Linked DNA regions of Homo sapiens: region 2 is linked to region 1. Evidence: fine-mapped expression QTL. A gene starts in region 1. The other region holds a variant in brackets. All regions are shown on one strand. Distances are from middle to middle.

Region 1 (5,372 bases):
ATTTGTTGAGTGGTGATAATAGCAATACCTGCCTCTGAGGGTTTGGTTGAAATGAAATTAGTGCATGAGAAGTGTGCGGCTCTTAACAATATCAGCTGATCCTCATCCTCCTCACTGTCACTGCGCCAGCCGCATCTCACTTCCTCCACACAACCACCTCCCCCCTTGTTTTTCTAACAAACTGAGGCTAGGTGAGGTTGGTTGACTGGTCCAAGGTCACCTAACTGCCGAGAAAATAAGGCAGCCGTCTGAGTGAATGAGAAGTGAAGGAAGAAGGACCGGACTGAGCCAGTGAATGAATGAATGACCAGACGCAGGAAGGAGGGACTCAGGGGGAAGGCGGCGGTGACGCCCGCCCCACTCCTCTCCCCGCCCTCCCCAGCGACAGGTCCCGCCCAGACCGGAAAGGGGTGGGGGCGGGGGAGTCAAGGTATTACAGATGACGAGGCTGCAGCTGGTTTAGTTTAAGAGGCTACAGCAGGGAGGGAGCGGGGGAGGGGGCGGCAACGGTGGGGGCGCCCAGACCCTGCGGGGGAAGTGAGTCACCCAGAAAACGCAGCATCGGCGGCTGGCCGTTAACCCGCTCCCGGCCAGGGAGGAGATGTGGGCTTGGCCGGCCACGCCCTCCCTGCTGGACCAAGCCCGTCCCTGCCGCCCACCACCCCGACTTCACTTCTCACCTCTTAGCGTCAGGAGCCACCTCGCCTCGCACTCGAAGGCACTCTCCAGGTTTGAGATTCAGGTTGCTGGCGACCAGACCCTGCACAGACAAGCCCCGGCCCAGCCGGGTTAGAGGACAAGGCCTCCACTGCTCGAAGTGTCCGGGGGTGGCTGGGGGTGGGAGTGGGGTTGTTCCCGCCCGGCATCCTCTGACCAAGCCAAGGGGAAGCCTGGGGAAAGGATTGAGCTGTAATTTCCAGCCTCCGATTGTCTATGTGGTCCTGGGAAAGTCCCTATTCCCACCGGGGTTGGCTTCAGTCTGTAACGTGAAGGTTCTAGAAGACAGGCTCTAGAAGATTTTGCAGATTGGCTTGGGAATTTTGGACTCAAGAGTGACTTGGGAGATGGGGTGCTCTGTCCCATCGCAGATGGAGAGGATCAGGCTGGGGAGGGGCCGACACTTGGCCCACCGTCACACTGAATGGAGGGGCCGGCCCCTCTGCTGGAGAGGAAGTGGCTAGGGGCGGGCGACCCCACTATTCTCCTTCAAGCCCCTCTCTGCAAAGAGGCCCAGGGGCTAGAGAGGAGACCCTGAAAAACACGGCCTCTCTGCATTAGGGAGAATAGCCCTGCAGTCGGGCTGTGGCTGGGCTGGCTCAGGGTTAACAAGATTGAGCAAACTGCTGGGCACTGCTGTTCCCTGGCACCCCGAGTGGGTGGGCAAGAGTTAACTGGTTTGAGTGGTTTCTTCTGCCAGAAACTTGAACCCTTTCCCTGGGGCCCGAGGAAGATTCTCACCTCCCTGCCACCCCAACCTCCCAGCTTGGGGGTGGTGGAAGGGAATTTCCCCCGCCCCCCCCGCCACCAGCCTGGACACAACCACCCTCCACCCCCGACCTAGAAGGGCCCATCCTGGGCAGCTTGTCTCGGGTCCTGGCAACTTTTCAGCGTTCTCTGGAGCAGAGGGTAACTCTGCCCTGGCCTGGTGACCGGGACAGCTGCAGGGGGGAGGGGACAGGAGGCTCTTTGGGGTGGAGGAGGGGGAAAGGGATAGTGGCCTGGGTGTCCCCCAGTTGGCCACACCCTTCCCACGCTCACTTCTCAGAGAGCTGCAGAATGTCAACCCTGGGCAGAAATAACTGTGCTTTCAGACCCTGGAGGAATCCAGACAATTATCAATGCAGAGAAGGCCTTGAGGGACCATGGCGCCCACCCCCATTTTACAGATGTGGCCACTGAGGTCCAGAAAAGAGAAGGCACTGGTTCCAGGCCACACAGCTGGGGCTAGAATCTGCTCCCGATCTGCCCAGCTCTCCTCTGGCCATCAGTTCCTGCCCTATCCCCTGGACCTTGGGGGGGGGTCCCCACACTCACACAAGCCATGATTGAGTCCAGGAGGATGTTCCCGGGCAGGCGCACCAGCTGTCAGAAGACTCCACCCGAGAGAGATGGGCCCCCGGACGCTCCCACCCTTTTAACTGGACCGGACCGGGTGAGCCCCGCCCCCTGAAAGTTCAGCCAATTGCAAGTCAGGATAGGGCTGGGGGCCACTGGGGGCGGAGTCCGTGGAATTTTGAAGCCAGTTTTGGAGCAGAGGTGACCAATCAGAGTGGCGAGCTGCTGCCCCCCCTCACCCCGCCGCCCCCGGCCAGAGTCCAAGCTCCACCTCCTATTCTCCTTCATCCCTCTCCACCTCCCCACCAAAATTGTGCTGTGGCAGAGATTGGGGGAAGCCAGTGGAAAATAGTTTGATGATGAGCTAGGCCCACAAGTTGGCGGGAAGGGGCCTGTGGCCAGCAGGCTGGGCTCAGGGGGTGCCCAGAGAAGATGGCTGAGGAGGTGCAGGGTCCTTCAGGGAATCAGAGCTGGGGGAGACCAGGCCACTCCCGGGCAGGGACCAGGGCGTGGCTCCTGCTGCGTGCGCGTCTGCAGAGGGCCACTGACTTAACCACAGGCCCTGGCCCCACCCGGGCCTTCCCCGGAAGCAAGGACTGCGGCTGCTGCAGCGCTCTCTCGCTGGCTCCTCGGGAAGGCTAAAGAAAGGCTGGGCCGGGCGCCAAGCCTGAGGCTGCAGGGCTTGGCTAAGGCCTCGGGCTTGGCCGCGTTCAGGGGCAGGCAGGGGATAGTCAAAGCGCCCTGGCCTGACAGCCTCAGGCCTGAGAGTGTCAAGCTTAGGAGATGGCCCAGGGTGGTCCAGACCAGGAGGGGGTGGGGTCCTGGCTCTGTGCACCCTGTCCTTTCTCTTTTTTATTTTTATTTATTTATATATTTATTTTTGAGATGGAGTCTCGCTCTGTCGCCCAGGCTGGAGTGCAGTGGCGTGATCTCAGCTCACTGCAACCTCTGCCTCCCAGGTTCAACTGATTCTCCTGCCTCAGCCTCCCGAGTAGCTGGGACTACAGGCCCCCACCACCACACCCGGCTAATTTATGTACTTTTAGTAGAGACGGGGTTTCACCACGTTGGCCAGGCTGGTCTCAAACTCCTGACCTCAGTTGATCCACCCGCCTCAGCCTCCCAAAGTAATGGGATTACAGGTGTGAGCCACCATGCCTGGCCACCCTGTCTGCTCTCTTAACATCTCCTCTGAGGCCCGGCACAGCCCTCCCTTCCCTGAGTGTTCAGCAGGTATTTTACTGAGCACCTACTATGTACCTGGCCCTGGGCTCTGAGGATTCAAAGCTGAACCCCTCCCAGTCCCCACTCTCAAGGAGCGCATAGTTGGGGTGGAATCTGACCACAACCACGTTAAGAAGTAGATGATGGGCTGGGCGCAGTGGCTCACGCCGGTAATCCCAGCTCTTTAGGAAGCCGAGGCGGGCGGATCACCTAAGGTTAGGAGTTCGAGACTAGCCTGACCAACACGGAGAAACCCCATCTCTACTAAAAATACAAAATTAGCTGGGCATGGTGGCATATGCCTGTAATCCCTGCTACTCCTGAGGCTGAGGCAGGAGAATCGCTTGAACCCAGGAGGCAGAGGTTGCAGTGATCCGAGATCAGTCTATTGCACTCCAGCCTGGGCAATAAGAGTGAAACTCAGTCTCAATTAAAAAAAATAAAAAATAAAAATAAAAATAAAAAGAAGTAGATGATGATGGCTGTAAGGGAAGCCATGAGAAAGTGCTATGGTGGGCTGGCGGCTGCATGAGTAAAGGAGGTGGGTCGTGAAGGGTAGGCGGAGAAGTGCCTGGCTTTCCACCATGGGCAGAAGCTCCAGAATGAGAAGGCCAGGGCTGGAGAACAGTGTTCCGGGCATGTGGGGGAAAAACGGGGATGAGGCTGGGAAGCCAACAGGACCTGGACCATGGAGGGCCTCATGGGCTGGGCACAGGGCTTGGACATTGTTGTATGGGAGGAGGCTGGGGAGCCAGGGCTAGAGGGAGGGTGAGTACTGAGGCCAGATTTGGGCTCTAGGGAAGATCACTGTGGCAGAGAATTGAGGGTGGGTGGGAGGGGTGCTCACCTTACACTCAGGAACCTGGTGGAGGAAGGGGCGTGGGGAGCACTGGGCAAAATGAGGGGCATGCTGGGGGGTTGTCACGGGGACCTCCTTCTCCACCTGGCCGTCCCCCTTCTGAAACTGCTGGCACCAAAGAGGGACGAAGATGCGGACCAGGAGTGACTCACATCTGGAAGCCAGGCCAACACACCCACCCTGCCTCTCAGGGGCACCTTCCTCCAGATGCCCAAAGCCCACTCTGGTACAGGATGAGAGGGGAGTGTGTAGGGCCGCAAGGCGGACCCAGAGAGGGGATGGGGTTGCACCCCTGTGAGTGCCTTACCCCTCCTTCCAGACCAAGTGGCTGCTTGGAAACCAACCACAGCAGCTTCACTTTTTCCTCCGGGCCTCCCCAAAACCTCAACCATAGGAAGGGCTGGATGGGGCCCAGCCTAGTTCCACTGCCCCTCCCCCATGCCTCCCCTCTCTGCCAGATCAAGGAATGGGGCATCTCAGGCGGAGTCCTAGACCGAGGGTCAGAGGCGCTTCAGGTGTGGTCCTCGCCGGGCTGCGGGCGGGTGGGTGTGGCCACTTTCCCAGCCCAGCCCAATAATTGGGTTCTTGTAGCCTCAGGAGCTGCTCCTGCATCCTCCTCCACCCTGGAAAATGGGCCCGGCATCAGGGACTGTTTGCTGTTGGATGGAGGGACAATTTACTCCTCTGCAGCGTCTGGCATGAGTGGGGCTGGCAGGGAGGCAGGGTGGCATGGTGAAGAGGTCCCTAGAAAGGCCTATTTGGGAGTCTAGACACGCGGGTGCTGGCCCTGCTTGCTATGTCCCCTCAGAGCCTCCTGGCAAGCTGCTTCTCCCACTTGCCTCAGTCTCCCTATCTGTAAATTGGGGAGATGAAATCCTGCTTTCCTTGCACGAGGTGAATACAGGGTGGAACTGAGGTCTGTTGTACTAAACAGATGATTCGTGTTTTCATGGAGGCTCAGAAGGTTTTCACTTCCTTCTTGTCTCTTCCCAGGCTGTTACCTTCCCTAGGTCTTTGCAGCACCTCTGGGAGGTCTACATGTCATGCCCAACAGGTCCCCAACAGTCTCCTCTTGCCGAGGTTGGGGCAAGAAGTCTCTCCAGATTCCAGTGTCCCCTGTGACAGGAGCTGCGGTTTTCCTGGCGGGGAGGGAAGGCAGGGACACAGGTGCATCGTGGGCCTCCTCCCCCTAGTCCTCAGGGCCTCCTAGTGGCAGCGCCCACTTATCTTGCCA
Region 2 (5,372 bases), 200 kb before region 1:
CAGAAGACCCCCTCTGCCCTATGGACATTTGCTGATCTTAGAAAACCTGGGCTGACGGCCGTGTGTGGTGGCTCATGTCTGTAACCCCAGCACTTTGGGAGGCCGAGGCGGGCAGATCACCTGAGGGCGGGAGTTCGAGACCAGCCTGACCAAGACGGAGAAACCCTGTCTCTACTAAAAATACAAAATTAGCTGGGCATGGTGGCGCATCCCTGTACATCCCAGCTACTCGGGAGGCTGAGGCAGGAAAATCGCCTGAACCCGGGAGGCAGAGGTTCCGGTGAGCCAAGATTGTGCCATTGCACTCCAGCCTGTGCAACAAGAGCAAGACTCAGTCTAAAAAAAAAGAAAACAATTCTTTTAAAAACCTCATCAGCTCATCAGCGCCTGTAGTCCCAGCTAATCAGGAGGCTGAGACAGAAGGATTGCTTGAACCCAGGAGGCGGAGGTGGCAGTGAGCCAAGATCACATCACTGCACTACAGCCTGAGTGATACAATGAGACTCTGTCTCTAAATAAATAAATAAAAATGAAAATCTCATCAGACATTAAAATGTCCAGCTTGAACTTAAAAGTGCCAGTGAAAACTAACACTGTTCTTCAACCCACCTCCCCTCCTGAGAGGAAGCTACTGCTATGTTGCTTGTGTATCCTTCTGGAAAGAACTTGAGGCATACATAGGCATATATAAATGTATTACTAGCCACTCTGTAAAAACCTTACTTGTATTTTTTGTAATATACAAACCATCCAAACGTTAATCAATGGGAGAATGGATAAACTGCAGTACAATAACAACAGCAGATGCTGGACTATCACAGAACAATAAACATGAAGGAATCACTGCTACACACAATGGACGGTGACTCACTCAATTATAACGTTGAGCAAAAGAAGCCAGACTTAAAGAGTACATACTGTGTAATTCCATTATATAAAGTTCACAAACAGGCAGCACTAATCCAAGATGTTAGACATCAGGACAGGACAGGCGCAGTGGCTCACACCAGTAATCCCAGCATTTTGGGAGGCCAAGGTAGGAGGATCACTTGAAACTAGCCTGGGCAACAAAGTGAGACCCTGTTTCTATAAAGTAAAAACTTAAAATCGGCTGGGAACAGTGGCACATATCAGAGTTCGAGACCAGGCTGGGCAACATGGCCAAACCCCATCTCTACTAAAAATACCAAAAATTAGCCAGTCGTGGTGACGTGCGCCTGTAATCTCAGCTACTTGGGAGGATGAGGTAGGACAATCACCTGAACCCAGGAAGTTGAGGCTGCAGTGAGCTGAGATCACACCACTGCACTCCAGCCTGGGCAACCAGAGTGAGACCTTGTCTCAAAAAAGAGAGCCGGATGCAGTGGCTCACGCCTGTAATCTCAGCACTTTGGTAGGCCGAGGTGGGTGGATCACGAGGTCAGGAGATTGAGACCATCCTGGCTAACACAGTGAAACCCCGTCTCTACTAAAAAATACAAAAAATTAGCCAGGTGTGGTGGCGGGTGTCTGTAGTCCCAGCTACTCGGGAGGCTGAGGCAGGAGAATGGCGTGAACCTGGGAGGTGAAGCTTACAGTGAGCTGAGATCGCGCCACTGCACTCCAGCCTAGGCGACAGAGCGAGACATCTCAAAATAAAATAAAATAAAATAAAAATAAAATAATACCGGGCGCGATGGCTCACGCCTGTAATCCTAGCACTCTGGGAGGCCGAGGCGGGCGGATCACAAGGTCAGGAGTTGGAGACCAGTCTGGTCAACATAGTGAAACCCTGTCTCTACTAAAAATACACAAAATATTAGCTGGGTGTGGTGGTGTGAGCCTGTAATCCCAGCTACTCAGGAGGCTGAGGCAAGAGAATCGCATGAACCCGGGAGGCAGAGGTTGCAGTGAGCCAAGATCGTGCCACTGCACTCCAGCCTGGACGACAGAATGACACTCCATCTCAAAAAAAAAAAAAAAGCTTTGTGCAGTGGCAGTATGGCCAATGAGGGTTATGTGAGGTGTGATTATTGCTAACTAAAAATAAAAAAATAAAGAAGGCAGCAGGACAATGGCTTCCCACTTGTAAAGTACTCCAACAGTATACAAAGCACCATCCCCCTTTCTCCAATCTCATCTTCACAGCCTCCTTTCTCAGGCTACTCGGGCATACTACAACTGTCCCTTAAACTTATTGGCCTCACTCCTCTTCGGGGCCTTTGCTCTAACTGTTCCTCTGCCTGGAAGGCTCTTCCTCCAGATATCTGGTGAGCTATTTTTTTTTTTTTTGAGACGGAGTGTCGCTCTGTTGCCAGGCTACAGTGCAGTGCAGCGATCTCAGCTCACTGCAACCTCCGCCTCCTGGGTTCAAGTGATTCTCCTGCCTCAGCCTCCCGGGTAGCTGGGACTACAGGTATGCGCCACCATGCCCAGCTAATTTATTTTTAGTAGAGATGGGGTTTCACCATGTTGGCTAGGATGGTCTTGATCTCTTGACCCCATGATCTGTCCATCTCGGCCTCCCAAAGTGCTGGGATTACAGGCATGAGCCACCGTGTCCAGCCTTTGGTGAGCTATTAAGAACTCTCCACCAGATGGATCGCTTCAGGTCAGGAGTTTGAGACTAGCCTGGCCAACATGGCAAAACCCTGTCTCTACTAAAAATACAAAAATTAGCCAGGTGTGGTGGCGGCCTCTTATAATTCCAGCTACTCAGGATGCTGAGGCAGGAGAATTGCTTGAACCTGGGAGGCGGAGGTTGCAGGGAGCCGAGATTGCACCACTGCACTCTAGCCTGGGCGACAGACCAAGACTGTCAAAAAAAAAAAAAAAAAAACCAAAACACTACTCCCTCACCTCCTTCAAGTCTTAGCTTAGCTTAAACTTCACTTTCTCAACAAAGCCTGTCTGAACACCGTATTTAACATTGCAACCTGTGCTTCCCACCACCTCTGCCTTCCTTTACTCTGCAGTGCTTGGCAACTTCTTACTACATAGTTTGTTTAATTATAACATCTATTGTTTAATTATAACATCTATTGTTGGTAATCCCAGCACTTTGGGAGGCCAAGGCTGGCTGATCACCTGAGGTTGGGAGTTTGACACCAGACTGACCAACATGGAGAAACCCCATTTCTACGAAAAATACAAAATTAGCTGGGCATGGTAACACATGCCGGTAATCCCAGCTACTCAGGAGGCTGAGGCAGGAGAATGGCTTGAACCTGGGAGGCGGAGGTTGCGGTGAGCCGAGATCGTGCCATCACATTCTAGCCTGGGCAACGAGAGCGAAATTCCATCTCAAAAAAAAAACCAAAACAAAACCATCTATTGTTTATCTCTTGTGTTTTTTTTTTTTTTTTTTT[A/TA]ATAGAGAAAAGGTCTCACTACGTTGCCCAGGCTGGTCTTGAACTCCTGGGCTAGAGTGATCCTCCCACCCCAGCCTCCCCTAAAGTACTAGTATTACTGGCATGAGCCACCACACCTGGCACCTTGTGGCAGCACCACAAGGCCAGGAATCTTTTTGTTCCCCGATATACTTCATGTGCCCACAATAGTGAATGAAAGATACTGAACACTTAATACAAGACCCCAAGCCCAGGGGACAGGCATACCTTATCAATGTAGAAGTCAACCTCTGAGGCTGACTGAAATTCACCATCCAGGGCTGAGATACCGCTGGTCCACACGAGGTTCTTCATCTTGTGTTTGAAGACAAGAAGCTGGATCCGGAACTCCTGCTCTGTGAGGTCCAGGAAGCCAGCCAGCTTGGCCACAGGCATGGTGGTGTAGAGCTTCAGGAAGCTGCGGATGGTTGAAAGCTGGGCCTGCTGCTGTACTTCATCAGAAAACACCTTCAGCTGCTGCAGGAAGGGCTCTTTGTGGTAGTTGGGGTGCACATTATCATAGTTGGGCACTACAGGCGACAGGAACTTGGGGCAGGAGTAACTGAAAAGTTCTTCATAGACTTGTGGGTCACCTTTCTGCATGCGCAACATCTTGTCCCCATATTTCTCCCGCAGCTGGAGGTGAATGCTCTCATCAATACGCATGGGGTACATCGTGAGGGCAATGGCCAGCAGCGCATGCATCTGCTCATTCTGCTTGTTAATCTGGGGATGGGGTGGAGAGTGGTACTGGGTCAAATGAGACGGACTTCCTGAGGTCCCCACTGCCAACTGGCCTCACCATTCTCTGCACAGATCTTTGACTTACCCAGTTGTTTCATACCAGCCATTGAACTTCCCCAACATCTCTTCCAATCCTCCCTCTAGATCTACCTAACTTCCATCCTAGCTCCAGATCCTCCTTAGCCATCTTCTGGATTCCTTACTGGCACCTCTGTCTTAGTCTCTCCAGTTTGTCCCACACATCACTAGCAGGTCAATCCTTTTACACAGTTAGGATCGAGTTACCCAAAACCTTTGATGCAACCTTGATGACGACAGAAATATAGACTAAATAGTAATGTGCCGTGCAACAGCGTTTCAGTCAACAACGGGCCATGGGCCACATATAGGATGGTGATCCTGCAAGATTATAATCCTGTATTTTTACTGTATCTTAGATACACAAATACCTTTGTGTTACAACTGCCTATGGTATTCAGTACAGTAATATGTTCTAGACGTTTGTAGCCAAGGAGCCATAGGCTATACCATGTAGCCCGGGTATGTAGTAGGTTATCCCATCTAGGTTTGTGTAAGTACATTCTATGATGTTCACACAACAAAATCACCAAATGATGCATTTCTCAGAATGTATCTGCAGCATCAAATGACACAGGACTATACTTTACCTGGGTTAATGAAGGTTCTCAGAATCTAATAACCCAATTCCTACTACCTACTTGCCCTCCAGCCAGAACAGTTTATTGTGCGGCTGCATCACCACACTTTCAAGTCTCAACCACTTTGCTCATGATATTCTCTGCCTAGGAAGCTCCTCCCAATTCTTGAACCCATCCTCCTTCCCACCAATATCCACACCTTATATCAAAACATTTAGAACCCAGTGAACACTCAGCATACTGATGCTGAATAAATAAATGTAGGCACTGCTGGAGGATATAACTGAAACAAAAGATATTATCATCAAGTCCTTATCATCAAGATGTTAATGATCTGAGGTAACAGGCATCACAACAGAAACTCCTAAGAGTATGCTAGCCATTAAAAGTTCATTTTGGCTGGGCGTGGTGGCTCACGCCTGTAATCCCAGCACTTTGGGAGGCTGAGGTGGATGGATCGCCTGAGGTCAGGAGTTCGAGACCAGCCTGGCCAAATAGTGAAACCCCATCTCTACTAAAAATACAAAAATTAGCTGGACATGGTGGCACGCGTCTGTAGTCCCAGCTACTCAGGAGGCTAAGGCTGGAGAATCACTTGAACCCA

Which allele goes with the higher level. Alleles are on the strand shown, and positions count from the first base shown. SD is a standard deviation of normalised expression in the study named.
With allele A in place of TA in region 2, the expression in memory regulatory T cells of the gene that starts at base 2,110 in region 1 is lower (large effect, 1.7 SD a copy in Schmiedel 2018).

Evidence for each region. PIP is the estimated chance that this variant, and not a neighbour inherited with it, causes the effect.
Region 2: its variant is the best candidate, but not a certain one, in a credible set for the expression of LGALS1 in memory regulatory T cells (Schmiedel 2018, PIP 0.76).

The regions. Positions count from the first base shown.
Region 1 is chr22:37,672,374-37,677,745 of GRCh38, reverse strand. LGALS1 (galectin 1) reads right to left here and starts at 2,110. Exons shown (of 4, transcript NM_002305.4): 1 at 2,035-2,110; 2 at 681-760. The coding sequence starts at 2,043. RefSeq lists an enhancer at 1-294 and silencers at 138-647, 2,168-2,307.
Region 2 is chr22:37,876,393-37,881,764 of GRCh38, reverse strand. It overlaps EIF3L (eukaryotic translation initiation factor 3 subunit L), which reads right to left. Exons shown (of 13, transcript NM_016091.4): 11 at 3,594-4,091. Among named protein-coding and RNA genes, the nearest start is that of MICALL1, 27 kb to the left of the region's middle. RefSeq lists a silencer at 1,528-1,687. The variant A/TA (reference allele first, on the strand shown) is at 3,348.